Linked DNA regions of Homo sapiens: regions 1, 3 and 4 are each linked to region 2. The links come from fine-mapping of genetic effects on gene expression. A gene starts in region 2. Each other region holds a variant in brackets. All regions are shown on one strand. Distances are from middle to middle. Region 1 holds the start of PREB (prolactin regulatory element binding). Region 2 holds the start of KHK (ketohexokinase). Region 3 overlaps DPYSL5 (dihydropyrimidinase like 5). Region 4 overlaps CAD (carbamoyl-phosphate synthetase 2, aspartate transcarbamylase, and dihydroorotase).

Region 1 (8,000 bases), 51 kb after region 2:
CGCCGGCCCATCCCGCCCGGCGCGCGTTCACTGCCCGCACCGCGGCACCCAGGACATGCCGCGCCGGGCCTTCGACTACTGCCCCGGCGGCTGGTGAACTCGGCCCCGTCGCCGCCGGGAGCACTCCCTACCCCTCTCACACCGGGGAGTTGCCAAAACCCTGACCATCAGCAGGAAGCCGAGCCTCAGCTCGGCTCCGTCCAAGTCGGTCTCGCAGACGCGCACTGCGCATGCGCACCTGTCTCGCGGCTCCCTCCGCGCAGGCGCAGGAGCGCCGACACGCGTCAGCACTAGCCGGCCGCGGGGCCGCGTTTCCCGGGGCGGGGCTTCGGTTCTCCACCCCTGGCGCGGAGGCAGAGTCGCCCAGCACCGACTTCGCCATTTTTGTGCGGGGCGCGGGGCGCGGGCGGAGGAGGTGGAGCCAATGGAGGTTGATGAAGGTCAACCTTTAATAAAGAAATCCGACTCGCGCCTGTAATCCCAGCACTTTGTGAGTCCTAGGCGGGCGGATCAGGAGTTCGAGACCAGCCTGACCAACATGGAGAAACCCCGTCTCTACCAAAAATACAAAGGGCGTGGTGGCGTGCGCCTGTAATCCCAGCTACTCGGGAGCCTGAGGCAGGAGAATCACTTGAACCTGGGAAGTAGAGGTTGCAGTGAGCCGAGATCGCGCCATTGCCATTGCTCTTCAGCCTGGGCAACAAGCAACAAGAGTGAAACTCCGTCTCAAAAAAAAAAAAATCCTCTGCCAGGCACGGTGGTTCATGCCTGTAATCCTCCTGTAATCCCAACACTTTCGGAAAGTCCGAGAGAGGAGGATGGCTTGAGCCCAGGCTTTCGAGACAGCCTGGGCAACATGGGGATCCGTCCCTACGAAATATTTAAAAATTAGCCAAACATCGTGGCACCTGTGGGCCCAGGTGCCCAGGAGGCTCAGGCGGGAGGATCACTTGAGACTGGGAGGTCGAGGCTGCGCTGGACCACCAGTGATGTCACCACTGCACTCCAGCCCCTGGGCAACAGAGCTAGACCCTGTCTCTCACACACATAAAATCCTCAAATAAGGACTGTTCCCATCTGAGGAGTGATATGCCAACTCCTAGGAGCACAGGCCTTTGCATCTTACCTCAGAGAGGAAGTGATTTGCCCGAGGGCACACACCAGAAACCACCGGAGTCTCTTGCTTCTTAACGGAGGCAGCATGAACTTAAAAATAAACCTGACTTCAAATGCTGAATCCATTGCTTCCTCGTATGAGGACACGTCTGTCATCCTTAACGCCTATCGCCCACTTTTGGCAGGGGTGGTGTCTGCCATTCCCTTTCTCAAGGCTTCACACTCCTGGGCTGGTGGCTTGGTGGGTGGCCAGCTGCTTTGCTGGCCTCAGAGGGGGCAGTTTGGCTCCCGGGCAGGTATCTTCTGCGCCTGACACTCCATTCTCCCTCGGGTTTCTGATCTGATGAGGACCTTTGTGCACTCCTGAGAGCGAGCACAAGGGATGTCCTTCCCTGCAAAGAGACGCCCTCTCCTGCATTCTCATTAACCTAAGGTGCACCCAGAGGAATAGCGCAGTGGCTTCATCTTTGGGGATGCCAATATCTGTCCCACAGAGTTGAATTAGATGTGTGAAGGGCCTGGCCAAGCTCTCTGCATATCTCAAGTCCCCAGGCCTTGTGGGTCCCTTGTCCTCCTTGGATACATGGCACCTGCTCTTTCTGGCCTCTCCGTTTCCTTTGACACCACCCTCCAGGGTCTTTTTTATTTTTTGAGACGGAGTCTCGCTCTGTTGCCCAGTCTGGAGTGCAGTGGCCTGATCTCAGCTCACTGCACCCTCCACCTCCCAGGTTGAAGTGATTCTCCTGCCTCAGCCTCCTGAGTAGCTGGAACTACAGGCACCCGCCACCACACCCAGCTAATTTTTGTATTTTTAGTAGAGATGGAGTTTCACCATGTTGGCCAGGCTGGTCTCGTAACTCCTGACCTTAAATGATATGCCCACCTTGGCCTCCCAAAGTGCTGGGATTATAGGCATGAGCAACCACACCATGCCCTCTTTTTTTTTTTTTTTTTTTTGAGATAGGGTCTCTGTCACCCAGGCTGGAGTGCAATGGCATGATATAGCTCATTGCAACCTTGAACTCCTGGACTCAAGTGATCCTCCCACTTTAGCCTCTTGAGTAGCTGGTAGTACAGGCACGCGCCACCATACTCAGCTAATTTTTTTATATTTTTGTTTTTGGAGAGACAGGGTCTTGCTATGTTGCCCAGGCTGGTCTCAAACTCGTGGCTTCAAGTGATCCTCCTACCTCAGCCTTCCAGTGTGTTGGGATTATAGGCATGAACCACCCCCTCCCCGCCACCAAGGGTCTTGTTAGGGACTGGCACCCCTATAGTTACAGCCACCTATTCTGTGGACTCAGCAGGACGCAAACACAAGTTTCACAGGGTCAGACTTTATTAGATACACGGAGGGCTGAATGGGGCCTTGGTGCCCTTGGTCCTCTTCAGCCTGGAGACAGCAGACTCCACAAGGGGCTCCCAGGGTTCAGAGCAGGAGAACACACCTGACCTCCGGCCAGCCAGCCCTTCAGGGTGTCTCGGGGACTCCCCGAGATCTGGGGCCTGGTTGGGAGGGTTGGGTTTGGAGGGGGTGTTCCAGGGGGCCTCCGTGGCTCTGGAACTAGACTGATGACTTTTGGAGAATGAGCTCCAGAGAAACTGGCCTCTTTGGGCCAGGGCAAGGCCTGGGCTTCAGGGAGGTAGTGACCTGTTTTGGTGCCCGAGGTGGAGGCCCGGAGAAACATCGTGGGGAGTTTGGTGATTGAAGGCCTGCAGACCTGAAGCTCCTGGTCTGGGAGGGTGTGCCTGGGACTGGGTCGGCCCGGGCCTGAGCTGCTGGAGGCTGAGATGCTGGCAATTGATGCCCACAGGCCTGAGTAGCCTTGCCCTGAGGCCCTGCTTCCTTCGGCCTTTTCTCGGGCAGCAGATGCAAGGCCCTGGCCTGGCCCTGAGGCAGGCGGAGGCCGAAGCCGATGCCTATCCGGAGTGGCCCAGATTCCTGGCCCTGCACACAGGGCAGTAGTTGAGGGAAAGCAAGCAGCCGGGGTCCAGTCCTGTACCTGGGGAGGGGGCAGGAGGGGCTGCGGGGCCGGAGGCACACCAGGCATATAGGATACTCCACGACTGGGGCCTGGCCGGTTCTGCCTAGCCACAGGTGCTGCAAAAGCAGTAGCCGCAGGTCGTGTGCGATGCGGCGGTGCCCCAGCTGGACCACCAGGGCCTGGGCCAGGGCCCCTGGGTCCCTGAACTGTGCAGGATCCTTCTCGCTTGGCACGCATCTCTCCACCACTCCAGGGGACCCGGACCCAGTGTCCCTGTACTGATGCCAGCGCCATGTCTGCCTGTTAGAGTGGAGCCTATGAGAAGGTGGGCTGGGGCCTGGGGAAGTGAGTGTGGAGCTATGCAGTTCCTCGGGGTGGGAAGGGGACTGGCAAGGTGAGTGGGGAAGGGAGGAGTTCTGAGGCTGGGAGGGAGAAAAGGAAGGGGTCAGAGGGGGAGAGGGGTACAGCCAGTGGTTGGAGGGAGAGGATGCACGTGGACGGGGGAGAGAGAGGTAGTTCTGGTGAAAGAAAGTAGGGGAACTTGGGAGAGAGGGAGAATAGGGATGTGGAGCAAAGTCAGAATTTGAGTCACAAGAGCCGAATTGGAAGCCAGGAGAGGGGGATGCTGGTGGAGGGGAGGAGGGACGACGGGACTGAGTGGAAGAGAACGGTGGTTGAGAGGGAGGGAGGCCCTGATGGGGAGAGAGAGGCTGTAGGTTGTGAGGAGAGGAGTCCACAAGTTGTGAGAAGCCCCAAGTGGGGCGCCCAGGGAGCACTGAGGTCTGTGGCAGCACCTGGTCCTTGTTTTGAGGCAACATCGCCTTGAATCCAGAAGGAACTGGGGCAACAAGACTAGGGATAAGAGACCTGGCAGAGTCAGGACCAGTATCTCTGAGGTCAGCTGTGCCTGAGAAATCAAGGCCACCTTCTGTGCGCAGAGCGTGGCTCCAGCCTGGTGTGGGTGCAGGTGCTGGTGGCAGGCCAAGGGGATACCCAGCCCTCCAGCACCAGGCTCTCAGGGTGTTCAGGCATGAGCATGAATCTAAGCTTGGCTTCTCACTTCTTTGCAGTCAACCATTGATGAGGGATGTGTGGGGATGGAGAATCACAGCTGCATCTTGGGAGTGGAGGGGCAGCAGCGATTATCTGGGTGGGGCAGAGAGGAAGACAAAGCCCATAGGACCTGGAGAGAAAAGAGAGAACCCAAGACATTGGGAGAATTGGTCCATTTCTGGCTCTGCCTCATATCCCCAGTTCCAAGCTGAACTCACCAAGACTTTAAATCCATGTCACCTTTGGGATCAAAAGAACTGGCAAAATGCTCCAGGGAAGGTGAGAAGTGGGGAGGAGAGGAATAAGGAGGAAGGGAGGGTAGGATGGAGTTGGAGGAGGGGTTCGGGGGATAAGGGCTGAGATGGGAACAGGAATTGAGGGTGTTCTGGTGCTGAGCGCTCTTACCAATGAGAACTCCTCTGGGCTGTGTTTCACAGGCACTTCAGCGTTGAGAGGACCTGGGAGAGAGGAGCAGGGTCACCAAATGGTGGATACA[C/G]CTTTCTCTGTCCCCAGCGTCTAACACTAAGTGCACTCTGACCCGGGTTTCTGTCTGAGCCCTGAGTTTTGCCCTCAGTCCTCCTTTAGCCAGGCGGAGGCCTGTGGTACAGATTTTTATTCTCCTAATCCTGATTCGGGGGTTCTGCAAGCATCCCAGTGTCCTGCCACTCTGGTTCCTCTGACCCCTTATTGCCCCTAGTGCTGATGTCCTCTAGCTCACCCTGGCCCAGACAGAGATACCTTATTATACCCAGCAGCAGAAGGAATGGGGCCAGCTGGTAAAAGCCTCTGGGAGACTGGGACTTTGTCTAAGGGGTGGCACCAGGTTCGCCGACCCCAATGGGAGCTGGGGGCCCCATTCCCTGAGTTCAGTTCCCCCCTGGCAGCATGTGCCTATGTCACAAAGGTCAGGTGCTGACATCATAGAATCTCCTCCTCGAAGCTCTGGGACCTTCTTCAAGAGACCATCCAAAGGCTGGCCCTTGATAACGCTGTGAAGCAGGCAGAATTCTTCAGTGCACTCAGTTTCTCCTTCAAGACCCAGCCCCCACCTCTACTCTTGGCCTATACACTTTACAGCTCCAACCACCTCCTTCATCCATTGCTCTCCCCACTAACACAGCCTGTCTGGGCTGAGTTCATGCACCACAACTTTCTCCCCCTTGGGATATACCTATTATATGTTTTAATAACTATTTTCTTAACTGCTTTATTGGGATATAATTCACATACCATACAATCTACCCATTTAAAGTGTACCATTCGATGTCTTCTAGTTTATTCACAGGGTTGTAGAACCATCTCCACAATCTAGTTTTAGAACATTTTTGTCCCCCCAAAAATCCTGTACCCATTAGCAGTTGGTCCCCACTCTTCCCCCAGCCTCTGGAAACCACCAGTCTACTCTGTTTCTATAGGTTTGCATATTCTAGACATTTCATATAAGTGGAATTATACAATATATGGTCTTTTGTATCTGACTTCTTTTACTTCGCATGTTTGCAAGGTTCATTCATGTTGTAGCATGTGTCATCGCTTTATTCCTTTTTATTGCCAGATAATATTCCTTTGTGTGGATATGCCATATTTTGTTTATCCATTCATTAATTGATGGACATTTTGGTTCTTTCTACTTTTTTTTTTTTTGAGATGAATTCTCACTCTGTTGCTCAAGCTGGGGCGCAGTGGCACAATCTTGGCTTACTGCAACCTCCACCTCCCGGGTTCAAGCAGTTCTCCTGCCTCAGCCTCCTGAGTAGCTGGGACTACAGGCGCGGGCCACTATGCCTGGCTAATTTTTGTATTTTTAGTAGAGATAGGGTTTCGCCATGTTGGCCAGGCTGGTCTCGAACTCCCAACCTCAGGTGATCCACCCACCTCGGCCTCCCAAAGTGCTGGGATTACAGGCGTGAGCCACCGTGCCTGGCATGGTTCTTCCTACTTTTTAGCAATTATGAATAGTGCTATGAACATTCTTGTACAAGTTTTATGTGAACATATGGTTTCATTTATCTTTAGATACATAGAAGCAGACTTGCTGGGTTACACGGTGAATCTATATTTAACATTTTGAGTAACTACCAAACTGTCTTCCAAGTTGGCTGTACCAATTTTCAATCCCATCAGCGAGGTATAAGGGTTCCAATGTTTCTTTATCCTTACCAACACATGTTGTTGCCTGTCTTTTTTATTTTAGCAACCCTAGTGGGTGTGAAATGGTATGATATTGTGGTTTTTATTTACATTTTCCTAATGACTAATGATGTTGAGCATCTTTTCATGTGCTAAGGGATATTTGTTTATCTTCTTTGAAGAATTGTATATTCAAATCCTTAGCCTATCTTTTTAAAAGCCAGTCAAATTTAGCAGTGGGGTGTTGTATACCAACTTTAGTGACCTTTTTTTTTGAGGGGCTGATGGAATCTCGCTCTGTCGCCCAGGCTGGAGTGCAGTGGCGCGATCTCGGCTCACTGCAACCTCTGCCTCCTGGGTTCAAGCAATTCTCCTGCCTCAGCCTCCCGAGTAGCTGGGATTACAGGCGTGCACCACCATGCCCAGCTAATTTTTTTGTATTTTTAGTAGAGATGGGGTTTCACCATATTGGCCAGGCTGGTCTCAAACTCCTGACCTTGTGATCCACCCGCCTCAGCCTCCCAAAGTGCTGGGATTACAGGCATGAACCACCACGCCCGGCCGGCTGTGGGTTTTCTATTCTTTTTCTTTTCTTTTTTTTTTTTTTTTGAGACAGGGTCTCACTCTATTGCCCAGGCTGGAGTGCAGTGGCACAATCAAGGCTCACTGCAGTCTTGACCTCCTAGGATCAAGCCGTCCTCCCACCTCAGCCCCACCAGATAGCTGGGACCACAGGCACACGCCACCATGCCTGGCTAATTTTTGTATTTTTTTGTAGAGACAGGGTCTTGCCATGCTGCCCAGGCTGGTCTTGAACTTCTGAGCTCAAGTGATCTGCCTGCCTTGGCCTCCCAAAGTGCTAGAATTACAGGGACAAGCCACCATGCTCGGCTGGCTTTTTCATACATGCTTTTTTTTTTTCTTTTTGGAGACGGAGTGTCACTCTGTCACTCAGGCTGGAGTGCAGTGGCACGATCTCAGCTCACTGCAGCCTCAGCCTCCTGGGTTCAAGCGATTCTCCTGCCTGAGCCTCCCGAGTAGCTGGGAACTGCATCAGGCAAACCTTCTTCCCATTTTATTCCTAAATAAGATAGCTACAACGATTTTGAAAAAGTGGCCAGGCGCAGTGGCTCACAGCTATAATCCCAGCACTTTGGGAGGCTGAGGCAGGTGGATCACTTGAGTCCAGGAGTTTGAGATCAGCCTGGCCAACATGGTAAAACCCCATCTCTAATAAAAAAAAAAATACAAAAATTAGCCGGGCATGGTGTTTTGAGCCTGTAATTCCAGCTACTCGGGAGGCTGAGGCAGGAGAATCACTTGAACCTGGGAGGCGGAGGTTGCAGTGAGCCGAGAACGCGCCACTGCACTCCAAGCTGGGCAACAGAGCAAGACTCCATCTCAAAAAGAAAAAGATTTTGTAAAAAGCTACATACCTCCTTCACAGTTTGCCCACAAGGAAATTCCTTGTTGGCCAAACAGTTCTGTTGAATTTCACCTTGGCAATGTAAATTGATAGCTTATCTTCACAGGTGCAGGCTAAAGGACAGAACTCAAAGTCATCATCTCTCTGCTCACCTGACACTAATGCATATCTGATTTGCTTCCTCTGTCCTACTGTCTATGTAAAAATGCAGATTCACTGAGCCAGACTAAGGGTTAAGTGACTGTTCCTTTAGCCCCCTCTCACATGTAAATTGTATATGCAGTGAAAGG
Region 2 (8,000 bases):
CAAGCCGTGGGCCCCTGGACGGCTTCAGCGTGTTTGGGGGCAGCTCAGGCTCAGCCCTGCAGGCCCTGCAAGGAGAGCTCTCTGAGGTTATTCTCAGCTTCAGCTCCCTCAATGACTCACTGAATGAGCTCCAGACCACTGTGGAGGGCCAGGGCGCTGATCTGGCTGACCTGGGGGCAACCAAGGACCGTATCATTTCTGAGATTAACAGGCTGCAGCAGGAGGCCACAGAGCATGCTACAGAGAGTGAAGAGCGCTTCCGAGGCCTAGAGGAGGGACAAGCACAGGCCGGCCAGTGCCCCAGCTTAGAGGGGCGATTGGGCCGTCTTGAGGGTGTCTGTGAACGGTTGGACACTGTGGCTGGGGGACTGCAGGGCCTGCGCGAGGGCCTTTCCAGACACGTGGCTGGGCTCTGGGCTGGGCTCCGGGAAACCAACACCACCAGCCAGATGCAGGCAGCCCTGCTGGAGAAGCTGGTCGGGGGACAGGCGGGCCTGGGCAGGCGGCTGGGTGCCCTTAACAGCTCCCTGCAGCTCCTGGAGGACCGTCTGCACCAGCTCAGCCTGAAGGACCTCACTGGTGAGGGGACAAAAGGCATGAGGGGACCCCTTTCAAGCCCCTTATTTTTCTTCTCCCTCCCCCAGCCCAGCTTCCAACTCATCTGCTTTCTCCTTGCTTTTCCCAACATGAATTGCAGCCCCAGCCAGTATTCCAGGTGTTATAGTTTGCCTGCAAGAGATGATGCAAGGTCCTAGCTCCCGCCCTCCCTCTGGCTGCTCACTAGGCCTGTGGGTGGAGAGAGGATGTTGCTCTGCCAGCCAGGGATCCAGCATATGCAGCAAGGGACCCCATGGCCCCCTCAGCCTGCAAAGCTCCACCTGTTCCATCCATCTTCTCCCTGTTCATGAAGCCACCACCCACCTTCCTTACCCATTGGAAACTCCTTTTATGGCCCTCCTTCAACTCAATTTTGTCACTGTAGGGCCTGCAGGAGAGGCTGGGCCCCCAGGGCCTCCTGGGCTGCAGGGACCCCCAGGCCCTGCTGGACCTCCAGGATCACCAGGCAAGGACGGGCAAGAGGGCCCCATCGGGCCACCAGGTATGTGCACTGAGACCCTTGCTGCAGTCAGGGTTGCCACTGCCCCCTCCAACCCTGACCCCCGCTGGCAGCCCCAGGCTTGACATTCCACTCTGAACTTGACAAGGGGAATTGGGTACTACCTGACCGATAAGGGAAAATCAGAGGAAAGTGAGGAGGAACTGTGATAGTCACTGTGTTTGGTTAATGGGTATTAGGAGGCTAATGGATAATGTTGGCCCCACTGCAGTACTGGAGACTAAAGCTGAGTCTATTATAGCTGTCTGGGGTGTGAAAGGCTGGGATGGCCCAGCAGTTGAACAGAATGGACCCTACCTATTCCTGTTTTTCTTGATACCCCAATTCCTGCTTTGAAGTCCACGTAGCACCGAGCACAACAGGAGAGCCTCAGCAGATGTTTGCTGAGTGACTTAGTGAGAGCTGCTTTATTTCTCACTGCTCCCTTTCCTCTTCTCACAGGTCCTCAAGGTGAACAGGGTGAGTGCCTTTCATTTGATTCTGGAGGGAGAAGTGACTAGGGGTTGGAGGATAGAGGTCCTCGGGCAGCCCTGGGCTGGGGATCCAGCAGGGGAAGGGGGCTGGCACTCTGCCCTGAGCATCCCCTTTAACATCCACCCTTCCCACTCAGGAGTGGAGGGGGCACCAGCAGCCCCTGTGCCCCAAGTGGCATTTTCAGCTGCTCTGAGTTTGCCCCGGTCTGAACCAGGCACGGTCCCCTTCGACAGAGTCCTGCTCAATGATGGAGGCTATTATGATCCAGAGACAGGTAGTCCTGGGAGGGGCTGGGTTGAACGGTTGGAGAAATGGGTGAGGTGTGCAGTGATATCTTCCCATTCTTGCCTTTTCCGACAGTGTGAATCTTCATTCTCTGATTTGGGGAGACCCCGGCTCTTTCTTCATTTATTCATTCTCAGGCAGTGGGGAGAAGAAGTAGTCATTCATTCATTCAGCAGATCTTTACTGGGGCCTGCTCCTGCCCAGGCACTGTTTTAAGTGCTGGGAATGCATAGTGAACAAAGCCCCCAGTTCCCTGCCGCTCACATTCCAGTGAGGTGAAAAGACCCAGAGGGTCCCTCCTCAGTCCAGGAGTTCTGGTGCGCTCCCCGGAGCTTCCCTGGCCCCCCTGACTGCTATCCTTGTCCCCAGGCGTGTTCACAGCGCCACTGGCTGGACGCTACTTGCTGAGCGCGGTGCTGACTGGGCACCGGCACGAGAAAGTGGAGGCCGTGCTGTCCCGCTCCAACCAGGGCGTGGCCCGCGTAGACTCCGGTGGCTACGAGCCTGAGGGCCTGGAGAATAAGCCGGTGGCCGAGAGCCAGCCCAGCCCGGGCACCCTGGGCGTCTTCAGCCTCATCCTGCCGCTGCAGGCCGGGGACACGGTCTGCGTCGACCTGGTCATGGGGCAGCTGGCGCACTCGGAGGAGCCGCTCACCATCTTCAGCGGGGCCCTGCTCTATGGGGACCCAGAGCTTGAACACGCGTAGACTGGGGTCCCGCCCGACGTGTCTACGTCGGCTGAAGAGACAGCGGGGGCGGCGGGCTCCTGGGGTCTCGCCTGAGACGGGGCACCTAGCCCTGGGCGAGCGCCGCACCCGGGCCCGCAGCGGCACCGCGCCCAGAGCGGCCTCTCCCCACGCCCGGGGCGCGCCGGCTCAGGGAGGCTCGGGGCCGCCCATGCAGACTTTTGGCCTGGCGCGATCCCCCAAGAACCCCTCCAGGGCCGGCCTGCGGAGGAGCCGATCCTCGCACCCTCCGCTCCCTCCACTGGCCCTCCAGGTCGATTCCCTGGGCTCCAGGCTCCCCCGCGCGGGCGCCGCCCACCGCCATACTAAACGATCGAGGAATAAAGACACTTGGTTTTTCTAAAAAAAACTAAACGAACCGTTCTGCTACGGTACGGGGTCGGGGGCTGCCGGGCGTGCACAGGGCACGGGGCGGGAGAGACGACGGCCTCCGGAGAGGACCCCGGGTTCCGCACTGCGTTCGCCGCCTCCGCCCGGCTCGGGGCGGCTCGGGGTTGGCTCAGGCAGCAAGCGGCGCCCGCCCGGCTCCTGCGACGTCTCCCCCGTGTCACGCCCGTTTCGCCGGCGTCCGCCAGGGGGCGCTCTGCGTTCCCGCCACGTGAGGCTGCGGCCCACCCGGCGGGTCCTGCTCCTCCGCGGCGGAGGCGTGGCCTCGGCTGGGACTAACCGGGGCGGGGCGGGGCGGGGCGGGGCGGGGCCGCCGCGACCGCGGGCTTCAGGCAGGGCTGCAGATGCGAGGCCCAGCTGTACCTCGCGTGTCCCGGGTCGGGAGTCGGAGACGCAGGTGCAGGAGAGTGCGGGGCAAGTAGCGCATTTTCTCTTTGCATTCTCGAGATCGCTTAGCCGCGCTTTAAAAAGGTTTGCATCAGCTGTGAGTCCATCTGACAAGCGAGGAAACTAAGGCTGAGAAGTGGGAGGCGTTGCCATCTGCAGGCCCAGGCAACCTGCTACGGGAAGACCGGGGACCAAGACCTCTGGGTTGGCTTTCCTAGACCCGCTCGGGTCTTCGGGTGTCGCGAGGAAGGGCCCTGCTCCTTTCGTTCCCTGCACCCCTGGCCGCTGCAGGTGGCTCCCTGGAGGAGGAGCTCCCACGCGGAGGAGGAGCCAGGGCAGCTGGGAGCGGGGACACCATCCTCCTGGATAAGAGGCAGAGGCCGGGAGGAACCCCGTCAGCCGGGCGGGCAGGAAGCTCTGGGAGTAGCCTCATGGAAGAGAAGCAGATCCTGTGCGTGGGGCTAGTGGTGCTGGACGTCATCAGCCTGGTGGACAAGTACCCTAAGGAGGACTCGGAGATAAGGTAGGGGCGCCCAGGTCCCCTAGGGGACCCCAGGGGCTGCTGCAGTCCAGCATTTGTGCCAGCGACCGAGGCTGCAGAGACCCCGCAGTGAGGCCCTGAGAACCCGGCTTCAAGGCCGGACCCGCGCCCTCTACCCGGGAATCCTGGGGGGGCTCCCAGCATGACAGAAGAGAGGAAGGAATTGAGGCCTTTAATAAGAAGACCCAGGATTTAATAGCATCGTGTTAGCCAATTTCCATTTCAACTCAGGCATCAGGTGTCAGGTGTCAGGCATCAGGATCCCCATTTTACTGATAAGTATAGATTCAGAGACCAAGGGGCTTATCCAGGGGCACACAGCTACCTGCTTCTGCTGTTTCTTTTTAAACCCCAAGCCTATGCACTTGCCTCTCATCAACATTTACTTCTAACTTATTTATCCACATATCTCGCACCTATTTCTGAGAAAGATTTGAGGTAGCTTACAGTAAAAAGTATGTACAGTTAAACTGTTGGAGAACATTTAAGACCATGGTATTTGAGCTTCAACTATAGCTCAGGGCTTGCTGGCACTGGAGGCAAACATGAGATGCCATGGGTTATGTATGGATAGAGCTGGTTCATGAGCCCTGGCAAGCTTTTTCCTGGTGCTAAATTCCAAGAGGAGTTTACCAGAAGTCCTTTTCACAGAGGTCAATGAACACCGTTTAGTAGTGGGAAATATCTTTCTCAGTTGTCTGCTAGAAACTGAAGAGTCAGTTGTTGGTTCTTTTTTTTTTTTTTTTTTTTTTTTTTTGAGACAGGGTCTCATTCTGTCGTCCAGGCTGGAGTGCAGTGGTGCAACCATGCTCACTGCAGCCTTGACCTCCAGACTCAAGTGATCCTCCCACCTCAGCCTCCTGAGTAGCTGGGACCACACATGCACGTCACCATCCCAGCTGTATTTTAAATTTTGTATAAGGGACGGGTTCTCACTATACTGATCAGAGTGGTCTTGAGCTCCTGGGCTCAAGCAGTCCTCCTGCTTTGGCCTCTCAAAGTACTGGGATTACAGGCATGAGCCACTGCACCCAGCCGATTTGTTGGTTCTTTTTCTTTTTGAGACAGAGTCTCGCTCTGTTGCCCAGGCTGGAATGCAGTGGCATGATCTTGGCTCACTGCAACCTCCGCCTCCTGGATTCAAGCGATTCTCCTGCCTCAACCTCCTGGGTAGCTGGGATTATAGGCATACGCCACCATGCCCCACTAATTTTTTTTTTCTTTTGTAGAGACAGGGCTTTTCTTTGTAAAGACATGTTGGCCATGCTGGTCTCAAACTTCTAATCTCAAGTGATCTGCCCGTCTCAGTCCCCCAAAGTGCTGGGATTACAGGCATGAGCCACCACACCCGGCTTATTGGTTCTTGTATTTCCTCTTGATAAGGGCCCCACCATTACACTGTAATGCTGTGAAGGCATTTCTGTGGGGCGGGACACTAGCTTTCTCTTGGTGCAGTCAGTGAGTGCTTAGAACACTGAGAATTGCTCCTGGGCTATATCAGTTGTCGCAGCTAAGAACTGGATAAGAGGCAGTTCAAGACTGAACTCCACAAAGACACGACAGTGCTGATGGCTGCCAGGCTAACTGAGGTGAGAGACCCCGACACTCCTCAGGCTTTGGGGCCACAAAGCACCATCACATATATTATTTTATACTCTCCTCCCAGCAGCCCATGGGAACTGTGTAAAGATCAGTGAAATCCTTTATACAGATAAGGAAGCTGAAGATTTGGAGATGTTTTTTAAGGCCACGGAGTTAAATGGTGGCACAGTGGCAGCTGCAGCTCGAGTCTCCTAGTGTGGAGTCCAGGGTCCCTGCCCTCTGTCATCTCCTGTATACCCTGTCCCTTTGCTGTTGACCATCTCTTGGAGTTGACCCTTTGCTTTGGTTTGCCAGAGGTTAGGGCCCCTTGCCAGGGGTGCAGGGACTGGGGAAGGGGCACGGGCATGCCACTGTGTAGACCTAACCCACTGTGCAAGGTCGAGGCAGCCACAGGACATGGCACTCAGTGAGGAGTTGGGTTCATCTCAGGGCAACAGTGCAAATTCCAGGGCCACAGGTTCTCCAAGGACCGTGGAGAGCCTGGGAAAAGACTCAGCGCCTCTTTCTGTCAGAGCTGAAGTCCCATTTCCTCTCAGCTTAATTCTGTCGGGAAGGTAGGAGAAGGAGGTCCTGCTAGCACCCACACTGATGGGGCAGGTTCTGAAGGTGGGCACTGAGCGAGGCACTTCTCTAAAGGGCCCCTTCCCATGTCCATCATGCTTCCTGCACTCCAGGCCATGCCTTCCCCGCAGCCCCATGGCCCTGGTTCCCTGCAGCCTGGCTCCTGAACTGTTGTGCCTCCCAGAGGAGCACATCCGAGTGGGGACCCAGTCCTTCCTGGGTGTCTCAGCCCCACCTGTCCTAGGGTCTCTGTGCTTGACAGGCAGTTGGGGACTCTTGGGAGCCGCCACCTGGAGCTCAGCCAGACCCCTGGGACGTGTCCTTTTTTTTATTTTTTGAGTTGGAGTTTTGCTCTTGTTGCCCAGGCTGGAGTGCAATGGTGCGATCTTGGCTCACTGCAACCTCCGCCTCCAGAGTTCAAGCAATTCTCCTGCCTCAGCATCCCGAGTAGCTGGGATTACAGGCATGTGCCACCACACCCAACTAATTTTGTACTTTCAGTAGAGATGGGGTTTCTCCATGTTGGTCAGGATGGTCTCGAACTCCCGACGTCAGGCGATCCGCCTGCCTCAGCCTCCCAAAGTGCTGGGATTACAGGCGTGAGCCACCGCGCCCAGCCTTTAGCTGAGCATTTCTGCACAGGAAATATCAGTGTGACTTTGAAGGGTTTCCCCAGAGTAAAATTCTATATCCTTTCTTAGAAACCTCAATGCTTGGGCCTAACAACTTTTAGTTTTAAAATACGGAGTAATTAGCAATGGCTTTGGGGTCAGGAAATTGGGTTCCCACATCAGCTTTGTCCTTAACTATTGATCAAGTCAGATCCCTCGAGATTCCTCCTTTTTTTTCATATCTTTTCGTAAAAATTTCTGTAAAGCTGTAAAGCTCAGCTTGAAAATCTTTTTTTTCTTTTTTCTTTCTTTTTTTTTTTTTTTTTTTGGAGACAAAGTCTTACTCTGTCACCCAGGCTGGAGTGCAGTGGCATGATCTTGGCTCACTGCAACCTCTGCCTCCCGGGTTCAAAAGATTCTCCTGCCTCAGCCTCCCGAGTAGCAGGGATTACAGGCACCTGCCACCACACCCGGCTCATTTTTGTATTTTTAGTAGAGACAGGGTTTCAACATCTTGGCCAGGCTGGTCTTGAACTCCTGACCTCGTGATCCACCCGCCTCAGCCTCCCAAAGTGCTGAGATTATGGGCGTGAGCCACTGCGCCCGGCCAGCTTGAAAATCTTTGACCAGCTGGGTGCAGTGGCTCATACCTATAATCCCAGCACTTTGGGAGGCCAAGGCAGGAGGATCGCTTGAGCCGAGGAGTTCGGGACCAGCCTGGGCAACATAAGAAGATGCCATCTCTACGAAAAAATTTTTTAAATTAGCGGGGCATGGTGATGCACACCTATAATCCCAGCTACTTGGGAGACTAAGGTGGGAGGATCAGTTGAGCTGGGGAAGTTGAGGCTGCAGTGAACCATGATCATGCCATTGCACTCCAGCCTGGGTGACAGAGTGACTCTGTCTCAAAAAAACAAAAAAATTACTATCCTTTGTCATTGTTGTTATTGTTGTTTTTGAGACAGGATCTCACTCTGCCACCCAGGCTGGAGTGCAGTATCATGGCTCACCCCAGCCTAAACCTCCCGGGCTCATACGCTCCCCCAACTTCAGCCTCCTGAGTAGCTGGGACCACGGGTATGCACCACCATACCCAGCTAATTTTTAATTTTTTTTTTTTTTTTAGAGACAAGAGCTCCCTTTGGTTGCCCAGGCTGGTCTCGAACTTCTGGGCTCAAGTGATCCTCCTGCTTTGGCCTCCCAAAGTGCTGGGATTATAGGCATAAGCCACTGTGCCTGTCCTACTATCATTTTTTTTCTAATGACATCGTGCTCCCCTTTTCCCA
Region 3 (8,000 bases), 140 kb before region 2:
TCAGCCTCTCTGGTAAGAGTCAGGGGGCCACGGGAGGAGGATGGGGGTCTGGGAGAAGTGGCCCACCTAGGCAGTGGGACTTACGCCTGCTTTTCTTTTGTGTCCTCTCCTCCCTCCCGTTGCCTATTTCCAGGGATGAGTGCTGGTTTGGATATTAGACTCACATAGACATTAGTGGGGACAGGAGGGCTGTCCTGGTCCCTGGGCACAGACGCTCTAATAGGCCATGGCCCACCTGGGGCTCTGCTCGGGGTTTCTAAGTTCAGATATTTTTGTCCCTTGAAACATCTTGAGGGCTGTGCACACAGTGGGTGCTCCAGAGATGCCCTGAGCTCAGAAGAGTCAGCCCTGTCTGTGGTTCACGGGACTGCACCGACCAGCCCTTCGCCCACCCCAGCCCACTCCTCACCAGCCTCTCTACTCCTTCTGCTACCCCCTCTCCTCCTCTGACCTTCCCACACCTTTCCCCGCCTTTGCCTCACCTTCACCTTCTTTTTTTTTTTTTTACCAGGAATTGTATTGTATATATTTTATTAACTTTAAGTAAAATATTTTCTCTCGACTTCTGATGCCCAGTTTTTTCTCTTATCTTTCTGTCCTTTGGGTCCTGGCCCCAGTCCTTCTGTGGAATCTCTGGGTTCCTTGGGGGGTGCGATCCCAGTTCTTAAAGCCACGATCTGCAGTTTCCCGCCCCCCCGTCCCCCCCCGCACCCATCACCATGCGAGCCACGGGCTCATAAATGATGATCCTCAGTGGAGAACAAGCAGAGGCTGTAAGATGCCTCGGGCCTCCAGGTGGCTTAGGTGGGAACTGTCACCACCACTTGCAGGGGGCTAGGACCCTGAGTCTCCCTGAGCACAGTTGAGCTGCCTTCAGGATAAGCCCAGAGAGAGACCAAGCACCCACTCAGTAAGGGCTGTGCTGGGATGGGTACGGCGAGAGGCGCAAGACCCTGGTCCTTCCACCCACAGCCTGGAGTTTACTGGGGGAGACAAGCCCCATACACAAACCATCCTGCTGTGAGAACAGAGGGCTAAACCAGAGGGATGCCAATGGGTCAGCGCCTGCCTGCCCAGGCTCCTGTGTGCCCTGCTTTGGGCCAGGCGCAGCTTGTGGCAGAAGAGATGAGGTCCCTGTTGGAGGTGCTGGTAGCCCATGGGGAGGGGTCCTCTCTCAGGACCAGTCTCATTCCTGAGATGATGGCTCCGCTACTCTGAGGGCCACTGCCACTCCCACCAGTGACGGGCCATGAGTGAAGTCAGAAAGGGACCCTGGCATGGAAGACTTGTTTATGCACACTCAGGTCTTGCCAGTCCCGGAGGCATGGACTCCCACCGCCTTCCTCCTGCAGCCAGACCCACGAGAGGCACCAAGACCCCAGAGCTGCAGGGCCCCTGCTGACCAGCAGCCTCCTCTTCTCCTGCCTGAGAGCCAAGACTGGGCAGAACCCCCGCTCAGACAGCAAACATCAGGCAGCCTGTCCCCTCCTCTCTACCCCAAATCTTGTCTGTTCTAAGCAGGCCAGGCTGAAGAATGTCCCACTGGGCTCTCCGGGGCACTAGACCCTCCCTTTCCCTCCCTTTGTGTTTTGTTTGTTTTTGTTTTTTTTTTTCAATCCTTCTCCTGTATAGACCCTCCCTTTGTAACTAAGTCATGGGATTTCAAGATGCGGGGCCTTTGGGCTGTGGTTCTTTCATTTTCCGAAACAATGGCATACCCTCATTTTTCTCTCTCGCTTACTCACTGAGGCATATGTACAAAGGCCCATGTGCCAACAGGCTGGCCAATGACCTGCATGTACGAGAGACTGTATGCCTAGGCATGGGGCAGTGAAGTTGGCACAGTGGGCAGTTAATAATGTCGGCTCTGAATCAGGAAAACCTGGGTCCAAGTCCAGGCTCTGCCACTTACACACTGCAACATGGGGCAAGTCACTTAACTTCCCTGAGCCTCTGTCTCCTCATCTATAAGATGGGATGGAGTGGCTGTGAGGATTCACTCAGGCCATGCACACAGTGAGCCTCCAGGAGAGGGTGTCTGTGGTTTGTTAGCAGGCACAAGAGCCCGTCTCACCCTCTGTGCTTCCTTCCCTGCAGGCTCTCAGATCGATGACCATGTTCCAAAGCGAGCTTCAGCTCGGATCCTCGCTCCTCCCGGAGGCAGGTCGAGTGGCATTTGGTAAAGGCATTGCCAAGCCCCCCGAGTGAGGACGCACCGCCGCCACCAGCCCGCAACTCTCCAGCCGAAGCTGCAGGGGCAGGAGAGGCTGGGCTGGGTGGCACACCACCCGAGGGGGGCCCCGGGACCCACGGAGCCCTCCCTATGTCTGCAAAGTGATTCACTGTGCTTCGAGCCAACTCTAACAGGCACTTTGAGATGTGTTCCTCCTGCTGTAGTCCTTTCTGCCTTGGCCTCGGCGGGCTTTTCTGGGGCCCAGGAAGCCCACACTATGCACAGAGCCCAATGCATAGAGCCCTGGCCAGCCCTTCCTCTCACTCCTGCCTCCGCTGGCTTTGGGAAAGCCCAGACTTTAGTGCCCTGCCCCCTGGCTGACTGGCCAGTTGCCCAGAGCACTTTAGCAGATGTGGTTTCAAAGTAAAGGCCTCCTCCCCCACCCCTTAGGCCCCGTGGTGACATTTCCCAAGTCAGACAGATGTCAGCTTCCCAGCCATGCCCAGGACGTCCTATCTCCCCCAACCCACCTCTGGCCCTGTGTAGGGGCAGGGATGGGGGTGGCTGGGACTCCTGGTGCCCCTCGCCAGCTTCTCCTGCGCCCCGCCCACACCCTCGGGGGGTCACAGGCCCAGAAGGGTAGCTGGGCGGGGCTCGAGGCTGGTGCCAGGCGCGTGTAAATGGTTTTGTTTTGCACGTTTGGTTTGCGCAGTAGTTTGGTTTGACTTGTTTGTGCATCCTGTGAAAAATAACGGTGCTTGTGTCACTAGCATAGAATAGCGACAGGAATAGATGTGGTCCTTAGGAGACGCTGCACTTGACACCAACCAGACAGCACAGGGCAGGGGTGGTGGAGGGGGCTGGGCTCACAGGCCTCTCTTTTCCCCGCCTGCAGTCTTCTGGGCTGCGGGAGGCCCTGGCCCTTTCCCCTTCCCCTCCCCTCCTTGTCTAGTTTCCCACATTCCAAAAGGGGGCCTGGGATGCTAGCCCCAGAGATGCCAGCCCTTCAGGAAGCAGGTGTCCTTTCCCCTCTCTGCCCCTGATCACTCCCAGCACTCCCCTTGCCTTCCCCTGTCTTCACCTGCCACCACACACACACACACACACACACACACACACACACACGCACGGCTTCCTATAACTTCTTCCTGCTGGACAGAGACTCAGCGCTCCTCCTGTGTGACTGGCAAGAGGCCTCATGCCTGCTGAGAGAGGAGGAGTGGGAGAGGGGCTTGCCAGACACCAGAGAGGGAGACCCCAGGCCCACAGGACCTGGCTGTCGAACCCGCATTGCTGCTCAGGTGCCGTGATCTCCCGTGGTCGGCACCAGGCCCTTGCCAGCTCATGGCCTCATCTTCTCCCCTGTCCATCCAGGTGGGCCCTCCCTGCTTCTAAAGCCCCACAGAAGTTCCCATGGAAACACTAGAGGCCGGGTGTCTCCTTCCACCTCCAGTGATCTGGGAAGTGACCCAGCCGCCTGCCCTTGTTAAGCCTGGTCTGCCCCGTGGGAAGTGACTTCATGTTGCACATGTGATTTCAGCCCCCGAGGCTTGCGCGAGGCTTCTGGACCCTCGGTTAAAGGTCAGCCCCTGGCCGGGTGCGGTGGCTCACGCCTGTAATCCCAGCACTTTGGGAGGCCAAGGCGGGTGGATCATGGAGTCAGGAGATCGAGACCATCCTGGCTAACACGGTGAAACCCCGTCTCTACTAAAAATACAAAAATTACCCAGGCGTGGTGGCGGGCGCCTGTAGTCCCAGCTACTGAGGAGGCTGAGGCAGGAGAATAGCGTGAACCCGGGAGGCGGAGCTTGCAGTGAGCCAAGATCACGCCACTGCACTTCAGCCTGGACGACAGAGTGAGACTCCATCTCAAAAAACAGACAAACAAAAAAGTCAGCCCCTGCACATCTCTGTAGTGCTTTTCATGTATTCAAACCACTTCCGTATATGACCTCTCACTTAGTCCTCATGACAATGGAGCACTTATTATTCTTCCCATTTTACAGATGAGGAAACTAAGACCCAGAAAGTTCAGGTCCTCTGACCCCAGAAGTGTCTGTGATGACCCTCCCAACCTTGGCTATCTACCCCACCTGTGGAGAGGAGGTCTGGGGTGACATCTATTGTAGATCCCACCTGAGAGTTTAACCAATGAGAAGACTTACTTTCCTGGTAGGCAG[C/T]CTGCTTTGTTTTGCACAGGAAGATAGATTTTTTTTCTCATCTTTCTTATAAACAACCTCATGCACATTCTGTGTTTGAGCCAAGACTAGTCACCCATTGGGGGCTAACCGTGCAGTGTGAGCTGCGTCCACACCCTCACTTCTCCCTTCACTCCCCCTTTCCTCACTCAGGGGCTGAGAGGACAGAGGTGGTCAGCCGGGGAGCAGAGGTGGCGAAGGGGCTCATGGCAAGTGGCAGCCATTGGAACAGGGGTGAGGACCCAGGCCTGGGAAAGCCACCAGGGATGGGGGAAACCATGACGCCGCCTCCTGGTGCAGTGCACACCATCTCTATCCCTGTCAGCCCTCACTGGGTCATGGGCCTTGGGCAGATGTCAAAGAGCCCAGCAGCAGCGGTGGTGGCCAGCTGGGCAGAGCATCCTTGCTTGGGCTAGGAAAGCTTTACCTTCTCTGAGTGCCTCCGCCTGAGAGATGTGTGACCCGTGGCACCAGGGAACCACGTCTTGGAGTGGTCCACTGTAGGCCATGCGCTTCATCCACCCCCAGTCCCTACATAGGCCCTACCCTTGCCCGGGAGCTTCTAGATAGAAATCAGAAAGAGATTCAAGGAGCCAAATGAGCGGTCAGCCCCCACCATGCACTCCTTGCCCCGTGCAGAGCTCCAGCCAGCTTCGTCACCAGCCCCACTGGCTCCTGGTTGGAACGAAAGGGTCTCTGGTTGCACTGAATGCAGCTCTCAAACTGGTCTTGTACTTGCTGAATAAATACTGTTGTTCTTGCCTTAGCTGCTCTCTAGGTTTGTGGGGTTAAGTTGCCAGAAAATTGTGCTACTGTGTGTGCGTGTGCGTGCGTGTGTGTAGTGCTAGGAGTCCACAGTAGGTCTCTGTCAAGCCGATGTCGTGATGAGGGCTTTTCTGATACTGACCCAGAAGCCACAGAACCACAAGGAAACCCAAACCCCCTCCAGCTGCTGAGGCGCAGGCACAGCCTGGGGTCGGATGGAGCCTCCAGCACCCCAGCACCCAGGTGACTTCCCCACTCCCCTGTAAATGTCATGGTGCTAAGACTGTGTCAACCCCAAGACGACACATGGTCCTGTGCTTTGGCCACCGTTTGAGGCAAAAACTAAACAGCCCGACACGTTGTGTTCTGGTGCAGGTTTGTATTAAACTGTAGCTACTTCTCACTTGGACTCTGTTGTGTTTCTTCAAAGAGGAGGGAGTTTGGCAGAGATCTCTTCTACGGTGGCTGGGCAAGGCTTCAGTTGCTAAGAAAAGGCAGCTTTGATCTGTCTCTCCTATTGGGTGGCAGCTCACTGGGAGGCTTGTGCAGAGACTGGATTTTTTTTTTTTTTTAATTCTGAGAGACAGGAGCCCCAGTGGTGCCAGATTTCCAGGGACAAGGTTGCCAAATTATCTGAAATAATTAGGAGGAAGAATTAGATGCAAAAGGGAAAAAAACTAGACTCACTCCATCTACCTATAGTCGCGTATTCTCTTGGCTACCATTTTGGAAGCCCATAGCCACCTCTCCACTCGGCAGAACGTTTGGCTGATGGAACGATGGCCTCATAAAAAAAAAAAATCACAAGACAAAGCGCTGTCCCAAGGCCAATATGCCTTTGAAGGACCTTCCAGCTGCTCTCCGGCTGTCTAGAACCCCGCTTTTGGAGTTGGCCCTCTGTAGTCTCAACCCCATCCATTGCATTGAGACCCCTCTACCTTCCCTCTAGAGCTCAGTCAGATGTTAGGAGGATTATCTGATTAAACTCTTTCACACTAAAGGGTAAAACTGTGGCTTCTAAGGCCGGGTGCTGTGGCTCATGCCTGTGATCCCAGCACTTTGGGAGGCCGAAGCGGGTGGATCACCTAAGGTCAGGAGTTTCAGACCAGCCTGACCAACATGGAGAAACCCCGTCTCTACTAAAAAAAATACAAAATTAGCCAGGTGTGGTGGTGCATGCCTGTAATCCCAGGTACTCAGGAGGCTGAGGCAGGAGAATCGCTTGAACCCGGGAGGCGGAGGTTGCAGTGAGCCAAGATCGCGCCATTACACTCCAGCCTGGGCAACAAGAGTGAAGCTCTGTCTCAAAAAAAATAAAAATAAAAATAAACTGTGGCTTCTAGTACTATGTGGTCACTGTACTTATTTCTTAACATTAAAATTCGAAGGTTGAGATGGATTTGCCAGCTTGAGATGGATGCCGAGTCCCTGCAATGTATTGGGCCAAAGTGTCTGTTACCCTGTTTTCCCACAACAGGAGAGCACACCAGAATTGGGTTAACTGCCAAAAATCCATTGGGTTTGGATGAAAAAAATAATATGACCACACATTTGGCACAAGGCGTCTATCAGGCAGTCTACAGGGAAAAAATAAAAGATACCCAGGAAGACATAGGGTGCCTTTTTATGTATGTAGTTGTAGAAAAATCAAAGACCACAGACTCAGACTTTAAAATAAGGCTTGATCATTTATGAGAATCCGGATTTGGAGAAACCACACCAGTCAGCAGCTAGGCAGCCACCAGCCTCTATTTTCTAACTCAGAATTACAGACTGACCTCTGTACACCGGTAGAGACTAACGCTAAGAATTGCATTGTGGTCGGCCAGTCACAGTGGCTCACGCCTGTAATCCTAGCACTTTGGGAGGCCAAGGCGGGAGGATTGCCTGAGCTCAGGAGTTCAAGACCAGCCTGCGCAACACAGTGAAACCCAGTCTCTATTAAAATACAAAAAATTAGCCGAGCGTGGCGGTGGGATCACACCACTGCACTCCAGCCTGGGCGACAAAGCGAGACTGTCTCAAAAAAAAAAAAAAAATTGCTTTTTAGTCAGTGGAAGACACAGGGTCTCATGACACCCAGGTGTGAAGAAGAAACCTCATGATATGTAGGGGCTGGTAGACCTTAGAGTCCTAAGTTAATAACAGGCTATTTGACAGTGTTGTAACAACAGACATTTGAAAGGGCTCTTAGAGCTTTCCCAGTAGAACAGTAAAGGATCTGGCATTTTGCTGACACTGGGTACTGTCTTATGATGGAAAGTGAGTTCTTTACTTTCCCTTCTGGATTTACAACCATACATTTAGAACTAGAGGGACCAGATGTCTTGGTTTGCTCAGGGCAATCCTGGTTTAAGTCTATTGCCCCAGAATAATTATTAACAGTGTCCACTTTCACTGTCAAACATGTCCTGGTTTGTATAATAAATTACATGGTCACTTTCTGTATACCTATACATTCATTGGGCTATTACTGTGCCTGTCCAGGAGTTAAAAATTTTTCCATTGCTGAAAGACAAGACATGGCATTGTAAGAGATGCGGAAGATGGGTCCTTCCACAGTGGGTGGTGACTTAGGGGTTTGCATGACAAGCCCAGCGTCTTCACACAGCTCTTGGAGGCTTGATGAGTCTCAGTAGCCGGGGATGCCACAGGGTGGGGAAGGCCTGCAAATGCTTTTCTAAGCTTTTTCAGTTTGCCTCGTAGACCTCATTGTTCCATTAGAAGCTGTAACCCTACCAAATTCTATCATTTGCTTTTAAGGTGACTTTGATTCCATTTATGAACTTGAACACCTTACAACATTTTCAACTACATTTAAAATTTGATTTCCCTTTTAAATACCTTTCCTAAGTACCAAATAA
Region 4 (8,000 bases), 150 kb after region 2:
GAAAAGAGCTATAAGTTAAGATTTCTTTTTGTTTGTTTGTTTGTTTTGTTTTGTTTGAGACGGAGTCTCGCTTTGTTCCCCGGGCTGGAGTGCAATGGTGTGATCGCTGCTCACTGCAAGCTCCACCTCCCGGGTTCACGCCATTTTCCTGCCTCAGCCTCTGGAGTAGCTGGGGCTACAGGCGCCCGCCACCACTCCCGGCTAATTTTTTTGTATTTTTAGTAGAGACGGGGTTTCACCATGTTAGCCAGGATGGTCTCGATCTCCTGACCTCGTGATCCTTCCGCCTCAGCCTCCCAAAGTGCTGGGATTACAGGCGTGAGCCACTGCGCCCGGCCATTAAGATTTCTTAGTTGTGAAACACCATGAATCCCACCATCATGTGACTTGCCTTGAGAATCTCCCAGAGTCTTGACTATAAACCATAAGCATTATGGGCAGTGCCTTCTTCCCACCCCTTCCACCTCCACACCTTCATTCCTTCCATTCTGTTCTTCCAGGTGAAGTCATGGGCATTGGGCGTTCATTTGAGGAGGCCTTCCAGAAGGCCCTGCGCATGGTGGATGAGAACTGTGTGGGCTTTGATCACACAGTGAAACCAGTCAGCGATATGGTAAGTAGCTCCCCTCCCCTGGCAATACCCCTAAAATAGACCCTGCTTCTCATCGCCCCCAGACCATGAGCTTGTTACCAGTAACACTAGCAGCAGTCATCATTGGACATTTGCTTTGTTTCCACTTTGCTGAGAATTTTGAGATGTCTCATTAGCACGCAAGGGTGTATTACTAGACTTGTTTTTACAGATGAGGAAACTGAGACATAGGTTATAGAAATTACTCAAAGCCACATAGCCAATGAGAGGTAGACCCAGGATTGGTATCCAGGTTTTTGCAGTTACACAGCCTGTGCTCTGGTGTACAGTTTCCCCTTCCTGAGACAAGAGCAGCTACTTACGCTCAGGCTTTTAGATGGGCTGGCAGTAGCTTCCGTCTGTCTACCCCCTTTCTATCAGGAGTTGGAGACTCCAACAGATAAGCGGATTTTTGTGGTGGCAGCTGCTTTGTGGGCTGGTTATTCAGTGGACCGCCTGTATGAGCTCACACGCATCGACCGCTGGTTCCTGCACCGAATGAAGCGTATCATCGCACATGCCCAGCTGCTAGAACAACACCGTGGACAGCCTTTGCCGCCAGACCTGCTGCAACAGGCCAAGTGTCTTGGCTTCTCAGACAAACAGATTGCCCTTGCAGTTCTGAGGTCAGAGGTGGCAATGAGAGCTTCCGGCTGGGAAATGTGGGGCAGAACCTTTGTATCAGTGAGGGACCCTTGGGAGGGAGGAAGGAGAGTGTGGGAGAGCTTTAGAGGCTTCTGACCTTGGTTCCAAGGATATTTCCTCTCATCTGTGCCCTGGGGTCTCAACCCTCTATCAGTCTGTACCCTACTCTCTGGGCCTGTGTTTCAGACCCTTTTTCTATTTTAGCACAGAGCTGGCTGTTCGCAAGCTGCGTCAGGAACTGGGGATCTGTCCAGCAGTGAAACAGATTGACACAGTTGCAGCTGAGTGGCCAGCCCAGACAAATTACCTATACCTAACGTATTGGGGCACCACCCATGACCTCACCTTTCGAACACCTCATGTCCTAGTCCTTGGCTCTGGCGTCTACCGTATTGGCTCTAGCGTTGAATTTGACTGGTGTGCTGTAGGCTGCATCCAGCAGCTCCGAAAGGTCAGAGAGTTCATTTTCTTTCCACTTTCCTTGCTATTCTGTTCATCTCTAGCAATTGCTTGGCACTAATCCTGGCATTTCCTATTAATTGCCGTCCCTTACTTTGGTCATAGAGCTTTGGGGTGGGGGTCCTTTTAGGCCATCTCTCATGCCCCACACGGTATATGAATCTCTTCCCCAACACTTTGTACCTCCTTCCCTCCCAAGGCAGGGGTCCTGTACAGCTCTTTCAGAGGAAGCTGTGCTGGCAGTCTCTGAAGTAGGGGCTTTGGCTTAGTTTCTCCACGATTTTCTCCACGATTTTCCTCCCACCTGACTGCTAAGTACCCTTCCCCTCCCTCTTGCAGATGGGATATAAGACCATCATGGTGAACTATAACCCAGAGACAGTCAGCACCGACTATGACATGTGTGATCGACTCTACTTTGATGAGATCTCTTTTGAGGTGAGGGAGATGGAGGCTTCCTGGTAGCTTGAGTGGCCAGGGTCGAGTAGAACAGCTGGCTGACCTAAGATTCTTTGAAACTTGGTGGCGGCTGAGGGAAGCAGTGAGCAGGAAGGCTCAGATTCCTGCCCTCTTTTGCTGCCACCACTTGTTTCTCCCCCTGCAACGTAGGTGGTGATGGACATCTATGAGCTCGAGAACCCTGAAGGTGTGATCCTATCCATGGGTGGACAGCTGCCCAACAACATGGCCATGGCGTTGCATCGGCAGCAGTGCCGGGTGCTGGGCACCTCCCCTGAAGCCATTGACTCGGCTGAGAACCGTTTCAAGTTTTCCCGGCTCCTTGACACCATTGGTATCAGCCAGCCTCAGTGGAGGGAGCTCAGTGACCTCGAGGTGGGCTGGGACCTGGTGGGTTACCCGGAGGCTGGATGATGCTTGGGGGAAAGTGTGAACAACTCAGCTAAGCTCCCTGCCTCCTGTAGTCTGCTCGCCAATTCTGCCAGACCGTGGGGTACCCCTGTGTGGTGCGCCCCTCCTATGTGCTGAGCGGTGCTGCTATGAATGTGGCCTACACGGATGGAGACCTGGAGCGCTTCCTGAGCAGCGCAGCAGCCGTCTCCAAAGAGCATCCCGTGGTCATCTCCAAGTTCATCCAGGAGGCTAAGGTGGGAGGCTGCAGACAGTGAAGTCTCTGAGGGCATGCTGCCAGCCCTGGAGGAGACTTCCTTCTCTGGTCCAGCAGAATCATAGGCACCAGGGCTGGGAACAGTGGGCTATGTGGGGCTCGTTAAAGGAAGAGACAATCCTAGAGTAAGTGAGAGAAGAAAGTGGCCCTATGTCCCACTGTCTGTGTCCCCCCGCTAGGAGATTGACGTGGATGCCGTGGCCTCTGATGGTGTGGTGGCAGCCATCGCCATCTCTGAGCATGTGGAGAATGCAGGTGTGCATTCAGGTGATGCGACGCTGGTGACCCCCCCACAAGATATCACTGCCAAAACCCTGGAGCGGATCAAAGCCATTGTGCATGCTGTGGGCCAGGAGCTACAGGTCACAGGACCCTTCAATCTGCAGCTCATTGCCAAGGTAATAAGGCTAAAGGAAAGAACTAAAGGGCCACAGCTCTTGCATGTTCTGTGCTGGCCACAGTGCCATGAAGCCCTGCACTGTCTCCTGCCTTCATCCAAGTAGGCAGGGAAGCTGGAGGGAAAGGGCTGTAGCTAGAGCTCATGGTGTTGGGGCTTATGACAGTCAGTGACCCTGAACCCTGCTCAGTCTGATCCCCCAGAGCTGAGGACGGAGAGGAAGAGTCTAGGCCTATAGATAGTGTCAGCAAGGCCAACCTGCAGAAGGCCTGACCAGTCTTCTCTGCCCCAGGATGACCAGCTGAAAGTTATTGAATGCAACGTACGTGTCTCTCGCTCCTTCCCCTTCGTTTCCAAGACACTGGGTGTGGACCTAGTAGCCTTGGCCACGCGGGTCATCATGGGGGAAGAAGTGGAACCTGTGGGGCTAATGACTGGTTCTGGAGTCGTGGGAGTAAAGGTAAGGAATATCGAAACCCTTGGGGTTAGCAGAAAAATAGCGGGAGAGAGTTCACTCACCACACAGAGTTGTCAGTATGTAAACCAGGCACTGACTGCAAGGCATTGCCGGATCGTGGGGGTAATGAGGTGGTCATTGTCCCTTAAGAGCTTACTTTATGGTAATGGGAGGGAAGAGAAGTTGGATCCCCAAAAAAGCTTTGGTATAGAACAGTCCGTGGTAAAACTACATATTCGACCTGTAAACAGAATGCTGCAGGAGTTCAAGAGACAGGAGGTGCTGCTTCCAAAAGGGGTGATCTGGGAAGGCTTGAGCGAAGGGGTGCTATTTGAATTGAGTTTTGAAGGATGGTTAAGGTTTTTTATTTGCAAGGGCACATCCTAAGCAGAAGCTGAGGGATGACCCCAAGTACGTTTGGAAAGCAGGAGGGCACACAGAGAGGGCAGGCTGACCCTGCCATTCAGATGGGATCAAGCACAGGGTACTGTGTCCGTCTCTGCTGGTGAGGGAGGAGGTCCTCTCACACCTTGGCCCTCTCTCTTCCCTCCCGCCCCTTTAGGTGCCTCAGTTCTCCTTCTCCCGCTTGGCGGGTGCTGACGTGGTGTTGGGTGTGGAAATGACCAGTACTGGGGAGGTGGCCGGCTTTGGGGAGAGCCGCTGTGAGGCATACCTCAAGGCCATGCTAAGCACTGGCTTTAAGATCCCCAAGAAGAATATCCTGCTGACCATTGGCAGCTATAAGGTATCAGAATCCAGGAGGGCTTCCCGAGGGCCGTGGCTCCCTGGGCCAGGGCTGACCTTGAAATGGAAGACAGGAAGAAAACAATTTCATCCTTCTGTTTGGTTTCAGAACAAAAGCGAGCTGCTCCCAACTGTGCGGCTACTGGAGAGCCTGGGCTACAGCCTCTATGCCAGTCTCGGCACAGCTGACTTCTACACTGAGCATGGCGTCAAGGTGCAGGAACTCTGGCAACCTACCCCACTGCTGCCCTTCCCCAAGGGGGTGAAAATACTGCACCAAAGAATTATCTGGGCTGGGCACGGTGGCATATACCTGTAGTCCCAGATACTCAGGAGGCTAAGGCAGGAGAATCTCTTGAGCCCAGGAGGTAGAGGCTGCAGTGAGCTGCGAGTGTGCAGTGAGTGCACCACTGCACTCCAGCTTGGGAAACAGTGAGATGCTGTCTCAAAAAAAAAAAAAACAAAGAATTATCTCCTATTCCCCTGCTTTTATTA[T/C]TACCATTATACTAGTAAGCTATATTCCATGCAGAAAGCAGAATACACAGGAAGCAAAGAGAAAAGTCTCTTAAAATCTCTGTACCACTGTTCTGATATTTTTCCTTCCAGGATTTTCTCTGTGTACATGTGTGTGAGCTCATACTGCACCTAGTCCTTGGTAACCCATCTTACTTAGTGTAGATATCTTTCCTGCCAAGAAATACACTTTGCCAGTATCAAATAGAGGCAGCCCTCAGTGCCCACCCTATGGGTCCTCAGTCTCCTCATCATGGGCTCCTGGGCCAGCTCCTCTCCCTTAAGGCTAGCCTTCCTGACCGCTGCCAGACAGCTTGGCCCTGACCTTGACTCCGGGTTGGCAGGTAACAGCTGTGGACTGGCACTTTGAGGAGGCTGTGGATGGTGAGTGCCCACCACAGCGGAGCATCCTGGAGCAGCTAGCTGAGAAAAACTTTGAGCTGGTGATTAACCTGTCAATGCGTGGAGCTGGGGGCCGGCGTCTCTCTTCCTTTGTCACCAAGGGCTACCGCACCCGACGCTTGGCCGCTGACTTCTCCGTGCCCCTAATCATCGATATCAAGTGCACCAAACTCTTTGTGGAGGTAACTGAGACCCATGTGCTGGGAGGGAGACTGCCAGTGTTGATGGGAAGAAGAAAGAGGGAGGAGTGAGTATGGAACAGCCATGCTAGTAATAAAGCTTTGTGGCTACAGAGGGAGAGATGGTGGGTATAGAGTGTGCAGAGCCTGGTTTATGGGAAAACCACATCTCTCCCTACAACTCCCAGGATCACCCTTCCCTTAAAGCTGACTGCTTTCCACTTGCAGGCCCTAGGCCAGATCGGGCCAGCCCCTCCTTTGAAGGTGCATGTTGACTGTATGACCTCCCAAAAGCTTGTGCGACTGCCGGGTAAGTCTTTGGGGAGAACTTGGCTTCTGAACACTGGCAGCCCCTGGCATAGAGACCTGCAGTGTGGTGAAGGATGGCTGGGGGGCCCACTCTTTGTCCTGGACTGCACAGACTGTGAAGACCCCAGAATGTTTCTCACTCTTTCATTCCTTAATCCACAGTGTCCACAGTGGCCTTGTCTGAGGAATTTTTTTTTTTTTTTTTTTTTTGAGACAGAGTCTTACTCCATCGCCCAGGTTGGAGTGCAGTGGTGTGTGATATCGGCTCACTGCAACCTCCGCCTCCCAGGTTCAAGCGATTTTCCTGCCTCAGCCTCCCAAGTAGCTGGGATTACAGGTGTGTGCTACCACACCAGGCTAATTTTTGTGTTTTTAGTAGAGACGGGGTTTCACCATGTTGGTCAGGTTGGTCTCGAACTCCTGATCTCAGGTGATCTGCCCACCTCGGCCTCCCAAAGTGCTAGGATTACAGGCGTGAGCCACCATGTCCAGCTCACCCTTCCTATTTCTGAATCTTCCTGTAATCTTGCTGCTTCCATTTTCTCCCAGGATTGATTGATGTCCATGTGCACCTGCGGGAACCAGGTGGGACACATAAGGAGGACTTTGCTTCAGGCACAGCCGCTGCCCTGGCTGGGGGTATCACCATGGTGTGTGCCATGCCTAATACCCGGCCCCCCATCATTGACGCCCCTGCTCTGGCCCTGGCCCAGAAGGTGAGCCACTGCACTCTTCCTGGTATTGGAGACCCATATGCCCCTACCAGCCACCCTTGCTTCCCTGAGCCCTTTTCCTTCTGCCCCGCCCTATGGGCCCAGGCCACTGGTGCCAGGCTAGCCTGTGTGGGCATGGGTGCCAGTGAGCCTTACCTCTGTGTATCCTCTCCAGCTGGCAGAGGCTGGCGCCCGGTGCGACTTTGCGCTATTCCTTGGGGCCTCGTCTGAAAATGCAGGAACCTTGGGCACCGTGGCCGGGTCTGCAGCCGGGCTGAAGCTTTACCTCAATGAGACCTTCTCTGAGCTGCGGCTGGACAGCGTGGTCCAGTGGATGGAGGTAGGGAGTGTGCATGTGGCAGGAGGCCACCACCCAGTGTCTCCTGGCTTGTGGGCCCCTGCCTAAGTGGGCTGGTAGCAGTGAGGATTCAGGGGAGCTCCTGGGGACTCTGGGCTCTGATGAGCACAGTCAGAGATTCTGCACACTCCTTCATCAGTTCTTTCTGCTCCCAGCATTTCGAGACATGGCCCTCCCACCTCCCCATTGTGGCTCACGCAGAGCAGCAAACCGTGGCTGCTGTCCTCATGGTGGCTCAGCTCACTCAGCGCTCAGTGCACATATGTCACGTGGCACGGAAGGAGGAGGTAAGAGTACACCTGAGATCCTGCTGTCCCTGTTGCTTTCCCAGTAACACCAAAGGTCAGGGTAGTCCTTAGGGGCAGGAGACAGCAGGAGGAGAGTCTGGAGACAGCAGGAGGAGGGTCTCGAGCCAGCACCCTTGCAGGTCTACATCATCATTTTTTGAGCAGGGATGTTGGCCATTGGGACTTTGTGTAGGGCAAGGCATATGGGTGGTGCCTCTTCTGGATCTTCCCATTGTTCCCCAGATCCTGCTAATTAAAGCTGCAAAGGCACGGGGCTTGCCAGTGACCTGCGAGGTGGCTCCCCACCACCTGTTCCTAAGCCATGATGACCTGGAGCGCCTGGGGCCTGGGAAGGGGGAGGTCCGGCCTGAGCTTGGCTCCCGCCAGGATGTGGAAGCCCTGTGGGAGAACATGGCTGTCATCGACTGCTTTGCCTCAGACCATGGTGAGAGAATCCAGCATGTACCTCCTCTGCCCAGTGGGGCTTGTGGGACAGCCCTAGCAAGAAAATGGGAAGCAGGCCAGGCCTCAGGACTCTACTAGGACAGGGTCTTGATCCGTATGGGACCCTAGCCTCTAGGGTACCTGGTCTGTGATAGGTGCCTGATAAATACTTGTTGAAAGAATGAATGAGCCAGTGAGTAGAACTGCAAGTGAAAGAATACATGGGTAAAAGTGTGGGCTCCAGAAGATGGCAGCAGTCCTGTTGCCCTTGTTTCTAGTTCCCAGAAAAAATGAGCATTGGGAGTGGTAGTGAGCATAAGGAGGTTGTTGGAAGTG

Evidence for each region.
Region 1: its variant is fine-mapped to the expression of KHK in whole blood (TOPMed, PIP above 0.99).
Region 3: its variant is fine-mapped to the expression of KHK in whole blood (TOPMed, PIP above 0.99). The same link has a PIP of 0.9 or more in blood mononuclear cells.
Region 4: its variant is fine-mapped to the expression of KHK in whole blood (TOPMed, PIP 0.95).

Annotation. Positions count from the first base shown.
Region 1 is chr2:27,134,411-27,142,410 of GRCh38, forward strand. PREB (prolactin regulatory element binding) reads right to left here and starts at 226. Exons shown (of 9, transcript NM_013388.6): 1 at 1-226. The coding sequence starts at 11. PRR30 (proline rich 30) reads right to left here and starts at 5,000. Exons shown (of 3, transcript NM_178553.4): 1 at 4,893-5,000; 2 at 4,560-4,612; 3 at 2,438-4,284. The coding sequence starts at 3,919. The coding sequence ends at 2,681. RefSeq lists a silencer at 1-44 and enhancers at 1-639, 115-164. The variant C/G (reference allele first, on the strand shown) is at 4,651.
Region 2 is chr2:27,083,433-27,091,432 of GRCh38, forward strand. KHK (ketohexokinase) reads left to right here and starts at 3,340. Exons shown (of 8, transcript NM_006488.3): 1 at 3,340-3,919. The coding sequence starts at 3,828. EMILIN1 (elastin microfibril interfacer 1) reads left to right here. Exons shown (of 8, transcript NM_007046.4): 4 at 1-579; 5 at 983-1,099; 6 at 1,559-1,576; 7 at 1,728-1,865; 8 at 2,246-2,971. The coding sequence ends at 2,583. RefSeq lists enhancers at 2,324-2,543, 3,534-3,593 and silencers at 2,674-2,833, 2,884-3,343.
Region 3 is chr2:26,944,813-26,952,812 of GRCh38, forward strand. It overlaps DPYSL5 (dihydropyrimidinase like 5), which reads left to right. Exons shown (of 13, transcript NM_020134.4): 12 at 1-12; 13 at 2,098-5,539. The coding sequence ends at 2,183. LOC124905979 (a long non-coding RNA gene) reads right to left here. Exons shown (of 3, transcript XR_007086251.1): 3 at 5,703-5,769. Among named protein-coding and RNA genes, the nearest start is that of MAPRE3, 22 kb to the right of the region's middle. RefSeq lists an enhancer at 4,757-5,257. The variant C/T (reference allele first, on the strand shown) is at 4,354.
Region 4 is chr2:27,230,968-27,238,967 of GRCh38, forward strand. CAD (carbamoyl-phosphate synthetase 2, aspartate transcarbamylase, and dihydroorotase) reads left to right here. Exons shown (of 44, transcript NM_004341.5): 16 at 501-613; 17 at 1,013-1,257; 18 at 1,481-1,727; 19 at 2,075-2,173; 20 at 2,345-2,569; 21 at 2,659-2,841; 22 at 3,041-3,259; 23 at 3,551-3,718; 24 at 4,278-4,460; 25 at 4,569-4,673; 26 at 5,317-5,556; 27 at 5,782-5,863; 28 at 6,412-6,578; 29 at 6,751-6,915; 2 more. Among named protein-coding and RNA genes, the nearest start is that of CAD, 18 kb to the left of the region's middle. RefSeq lists an enhancer at 515-1,714. The variant T/C (reference allele first, on the strand shown) is at 4,955.